Regions from separate parts of the Homo sapiens genome. Here region 2 is linked to region 1. The links come from fine-mapping of genetic effects on gene expression. Tissue or cell type: whole blood. Region 1 holds a variant in brackets; the other region holds the start of a gene. All regions are shown on one strand. Distances are from middle to middle.

Region 1 (2,678 bases):
GGCAGGGGCAAGGACTGCGGGCCGCGCCCGGGAGATGCCACCGAGCCCCGCAGCCCTGCGGGCGGCGGCAGGGAGCGAGAGAGCGCGAAGGAGGGAGCGAGCCGCGAAGACCAGCTGCTCGGAGCTCAGATCACCGCTCCCCCCACCCCACCCCCCCAAACCCAGCCGGTCCCACCCCGAGCGCGGCTGAGGAATCTGGCGCCGGCTCCTACAACAATAGTGCCCGCCCACCTGACCCCCTCCCCGGGAGAAGGCGGGGGCGGCGAGGGGGCGGCGGCCACCGGGGAGCCCGGGCCAGGCCGGGAGAGGGGAACGAACCCGTGCTAGGTGGAAGGTGGGTCCCCGAGCACCTACGGGGCCGTGGCGGCGGGGAGGAAGGGGAGGAGAGGCTGCGGGCAGGGCGGATCCAGGCAGGGAGGAGGCGGGGCGAGGAGAGATGCGGAGACAGAGACGCTCGGCAACCCAGGAACTACTCCGCCGGGAAACAAAGGGCTGCGGCGGGGGAGGGAGGGGGCGCTGAGACCGCGAGGGAGACGCGACCCGGGCGGAGACTGGAGAGGGCGCAGGTGTCGAGGAAACCGGAGAGAGAGAGGCAGAGGGAGGACGGAGAGGACAGGAAAATGGGGAGACCGTGGGAGACAGAAGAGGCGCGGGAACGAGCGGCAGACGGGGGAGGGGTCCCAGGCGACAGCAGGGCGGGTCTGGGCCCGTGCGTCCCGGAGGCTCCGAAAGCAAACCCCGCAGTGGTCCCGGGGAGGAATGGGCTTGGTGCCCCCAGGCTAATGACAGGACGGCAGCTCCTGCCCCAACAGGTGCCCGGCCCCCTCAGTACGGGGACGCTGCGGCAAAGGCGGTGTTGCCCAACCCTTGAGAAGGGGGGAACTTTCCGTGAGCTGGGTAGGCCTCCCCACACCTGTTGCACGGATAGATTTTGTCTTAGTCCTGCCAGGATGGGGGTTCCCTTCCCCACTTCCCTGCCAAGGATTGTGCCAGACAGTGCCAAGGCATCCGTGGGAACTGGGGCAGAAAGGGGCTGTTTTAGGTGAGCCTAAAGGGAAGGGGAAAGAAGCCAGAGGGTGGAGGTAGGGGGATAGTTGTGGGTGGGATCCTGGCTACACTCGGGTTGGGAGAGGAAAGGGCCAGTCTCCTCGGAGTCACTAGGGTAAGGCCAGATTCTCCCCTTAGCAGAAGGGCTTGTACCACTCTGCACCACTCAGTCTCCTTTACAGGAGCATTGAGATTTGGGGTAAGAGAGCCGCAGCCCTTATCTTGAGGAAACTTTCCCCAAAGATCCACCCATTTGAGCTCTTTCCTTTTTTCATCTCCTGAGCAAAATTCCTTCTTTGATTTTTGACTGCCTACCTTTGTGCCCCACGAGGAGGATGTGCGTAGACAGGGGTTACACT[T/G]GGAGGCCTCCTGGTGCCCATGCTCTTGGCCCTGAGCTCAGTCCTTTTCCTTCCCAATTTCTCACACCCGGGAGTTCAGCAATCTGCTCATCCCTCCTTGGCTTGAGGAGAATCAGAAATCCAAAACTCTGACATGGCTTAGTAAGATCTATGGTAGAAAGCACTGTGCATGGGAGAGAGAAAGCCCACCCAAACCAAGTGGCTTCCCACCTGGGTCACTTATCGGTGTTATCTTGGCAAGACAAAGAAGAGCTGCATCTTCAGACTGACATCTTTAGTCTGTCTACTGTGGGTGGCCCAGAGCAGCCCTGCCCAGCACCTTCCTCATGCTGGGTTTGACAAACAACTTTGTTGCAGCCCCTGTGGCTGAAGGGACTGTCTCCTCTCCTGAGTCCAGCACCAACTGGGGTTTGGTCATATACTGGATTCTTCTGTATTGGAAGTTCCCAGACACTGCCCACTTTTGTGCCCTCACCCAGTTACGCAGTATTCCTTGTATCCCCCTCTTTCATCCTTTCTCTTCAATTCCTTCTTTCAGGGGCCTGGAGAGGTGTCAAAGAGTAAGACCCTCAAGGTGCTCTTCTCCTGGGAGATGGCTCTAGTGAAGAAAGCAGTGGTGGAGGCAGCTGTTTCTCTTCCCATCCCTGCATCCACTCTCCTGGCCTCTCCTTTTGGGACTCTCTCCACCCACAGAAGGTCCTGGGGCTGTAGGTAACAGCGGATCTGCCATCGGCAGCACTCCTTCCTCACACTCCTTGTAATCTCCTGCGACAAGGTTGTCTAAGTCTGCTCCTGAGGCATGTGTTGCCATGCCAACCATCCCCAGGAGATGGGTTCAAGCTCCTCATACCTGGGCCCATCCCCTGGGTCCTGCAGTAGCTTCAGAGCTTCCCTCCTTCTTCTCATATCTCTGGGTTGCTACCCAATGTTCCTTTCATTTCTCACCCACACCTGCCTACTCTAGTTCTAATACCAACTTGGTGACTTCTTGTCCTGTGACAGGACATGTGCCTGTCAGTGTCCATGTAGCCCTAACCTCTTTTCTTTTTCATGGCTGGGCATAAAGGGAGAGAGCTGAGGGCAATAAAGGATCAGGGGAGAGGCTCCTCCTGCTGATTCTTTCTAGGAGAGAGTTGTTAGACTGGCAGCTGGCAGGTACCCAAGTCATAGAAGCAAGACATAAGAGGAAAAGCCTGAATAATCAGGTTTGGGAGCTGGAATATATTGAAACCTTCTTGGGAGGTTTCAGAATATATTCTAGCTTCTCCTCTA
Region 2 (2,678 bases), 48 kb before region 1:
TTGCCAGAGTCCCTCATTTCTCTCTGCCCATCACTGGGTCAGGTGCTGTGTGTTTTTTTTATGGATGACTCTAGAAAGTTTTCTCTTTCTCTTTCTCTCTCTCTGTCTTTGGTGGTGAAGGTGATTCTTGAAGAAGAGAAGGCTTTAAAAGGGGCACAGGCCGGGCACGGTGGCTGACGCCTATAATCCCAGCACTTTGGGAGGCCAAGGCGGGCGGATCGCCTGAGGTCGGGAGTTCGAGACCAGCCTGACCAACATGGAGAAACCCCGTCTCTACTAAAAATACAACATTAGCTGGGCATGGTGGTGCATGCCTGTAATCCCAGCTACTCGGGAGGCTGAGGCAGGAGAATCGCTTGAATCCGGGAGATGGAGGTTGCAGTGAGCTGAGATCGTGCCATTGCACTCCAGCCTGGGCAACAAGAGCGAAACTCCATCTCAAAATAAATAAATAAATAAATAAATAAATAAATAAATAAATAAATAAATAAATAAAAGAGGTACAGCAGGAGCTGATATTGGGAGGGGAAATAAAGGGAAGTAAGAACTGGTTTGGATGGGAATTAGAAAAAACAAAAAAGTCAGACATCAGGCCAGGCGCTGTGGCTCATGTCTGTAGTCCCAGCACTTTGGGAGGCTGAGACAGGCGGATTGCTTGAGCCCAGAAGTTCAAGACCAGCCTGGATAACATGGTGAGACCCCTGTCTCTATTTAAAACAAAAGATGTAAGGAAAAAAAAGAAAAAAAATGTCAGAGAAGTTCTGGGCCACCTCCCCCATCCCCTACTCCTCCAAAACACACACACACACACACACCTGTCTATAGTCTAAGCAGGTCCTGCTTTTGTAACCCACCCGGGACAGTCCCTGCAACTCCAGCCTGACCTCACTTCCTGCTTCCATAGCTAGTTTGTTTTTCTGACACTTATTGGTAGACACTCCAGATCATTTCATTTTGCTTCCAGTACCCTTTCCACTTCCTAATACAAATGCAAAACAACCTGGGAATCCCCTTTCAGGGGGAAACAACGGTGCAGCTTTAAGAGAAAGAGAAGGGAGGAAGGGGGCGCTGACTCAGATCCTCAGATCCATTGGCTGCTGGAGGGAATCCCACCTCAGGGATTGGGCGTAACAGAGTCCGCCTCCTCTTGTGATTGGCTCAGCCAGAAAAATAAAAGGCGGCTGTGCCGGCCTCCTCCTCAGTTGGAGGGAGGCAGGGAATCTGGCTTGATTGGCGTGCTGAGACGCACCTGGCGCAACCCTCCCTTCTGAATCGAAGTTCAAGTCCCGCGGACACTGCAACCATGAAGGAGAGACGGGCCCCCCAGCCAGTCGTGGCCAGATGTAAGCTCGTTCTGGTCGGGGACGTGCAGTGTGGGAAGACCGCGATGTTGCAAGTGTTAGCGAAGGATTGCTATCCAGAGGTGAGCTGCCCGCCCGCCCGCTGGCCGGCTTTTCTCCCTGCCTGCCCGCCTTGGGGTAGATTTCCACCTGCTCAGGAGACGTGGCTCCCCCAGCCCCAGCCCATCCTCAGCCGCTTTCTGAGGCTTTACCATCCTCAGCTGCTTTTTGGCTGGAGGACTGCCCTGCCTTAGCTTCCCCTGAGACCTGTTCCACTTCTGCCGCCCCGCTGGCTCCTCCTCACCTCTTCACCCAGAGGACCCATCAGATCCCCTCCACCTTCCTGCGTCCCTGGAGTCTGCTCTCAGGTGAGGGCACTGGAGGCATTTGAAAGTCTGGGGTTTCTTCTTGACGTAATCCCTGCCTATCCGCTCACCTGCTCCTCAAAGGCTCTATGCCTGTGCCTTCAGGCAGGCTTCTGCAGCCCCTCTGTTCACCTGGCCGGGAGGGGTTTGAGAGGAGATGAGCTAGGATTGGCTTTGGCCTGTGGCTCTCTCAAATTGGGAAACACAAATCTGGGGATGGGAGGAATCTGTGTGTGTGTGTGTCCCTGATCGCCTAGGATATGGGGGGCTTACCCCTGGTGTGGTGGTGTGGGGGGGTGTCATTCACATTTCTCACTGCTGCAGAGCAAAGTGCCTGGTCCTCCACAGTCCCTTCCCTCCTGCCCCAGGCATCTCCTCTGGTTTCTTGTCTCCTGTGACTTTACTGTCTCTCTGGTGAGTGCGTGTGTAGCCAGCACTAACCAGGGGATCTGAGGGTAGGGGTGCATGGGGTGAATGTTTCCTCTCTTTTCACAGACCTATGTGCCCACCGTGTTCGAAAATTACACAGCCTGTTTGGAGACAGAGGAACAGAGGGTGGAGCTTAGTCTCTGGGATACCTCAGGTAAGAATTCTGCTCCAAATACCCCTTTCCCACCCCTACTGGTCTGCTGTGTAGCTGCTGTCTTTTAGAAATTGTTTTCCCCTTTGGTGGGGAGAAGTGAAAAAAGAGGATCTGAAGACTCATTAGTTGTGGGGAGGGCTGACAGTTGGTGGACTCAGTTGCATGGTCCAAGGGTGCAGAGTGGGTGAACCCCAGGAGCCACTCTCTTCCCTGGGTCTGGTTCCACCCTTTAGAGGGCTGGGATGGTGAGGTGAAGGGACCCATGAATAGTCCTGGGGGTGGGCAGTAAAACAGGACTTCTCCATTTCCATTCCCTACCACCCAACATGCACGCGTACACACATGCACACACACGCGCGCGCGCGCACACACACACACACACACACACAC

What was found. PIP is the estimated chance that this variant, and not a neighbour inherited with it, causes the effect.
Region 2: it holds the start of RND1, and the variant in region 1 is fine-mapped to the expression of RND1 in whole blood (TOPMed, PIP above 0.99).

What each region holds. Positions count from the first base shown.
Region 1 is chr12:48,816,199-48,818,876 of GRCh38, reverse strand. It overlaps CACNB3 (calcium voltage-gated channel auxiliary subunit beta 3), which reads right to left and starts at 381. Exons shown (of 13, transcript NM_000725.4): 1 at 1-381. LOC101927241 (a long non-coding RNA gene) reads left to right here and starts at 1,945. Exons shown (of 3, transcript XR_245978.4): 1 at 1,945-2,117. RefSeq lists a silencer at 114-583. The variant T/G (reference allele first, on the strand shown) is at 1,407.
Region 2 is chr12:48,864,393-48,867,070 of GRCh38, reverse strand. It overlaps RND1 (Rho family GTPase 1), which reads left to right and starts at 1,201. Exons shown (of 5, transcript NM_014470.4): 1 at 1,201-1,423; 2 at 2,201-2,288. The coding sequence starts at 1,304. RefSeq lists enhancers at 878-1,007, 1,268-1,387.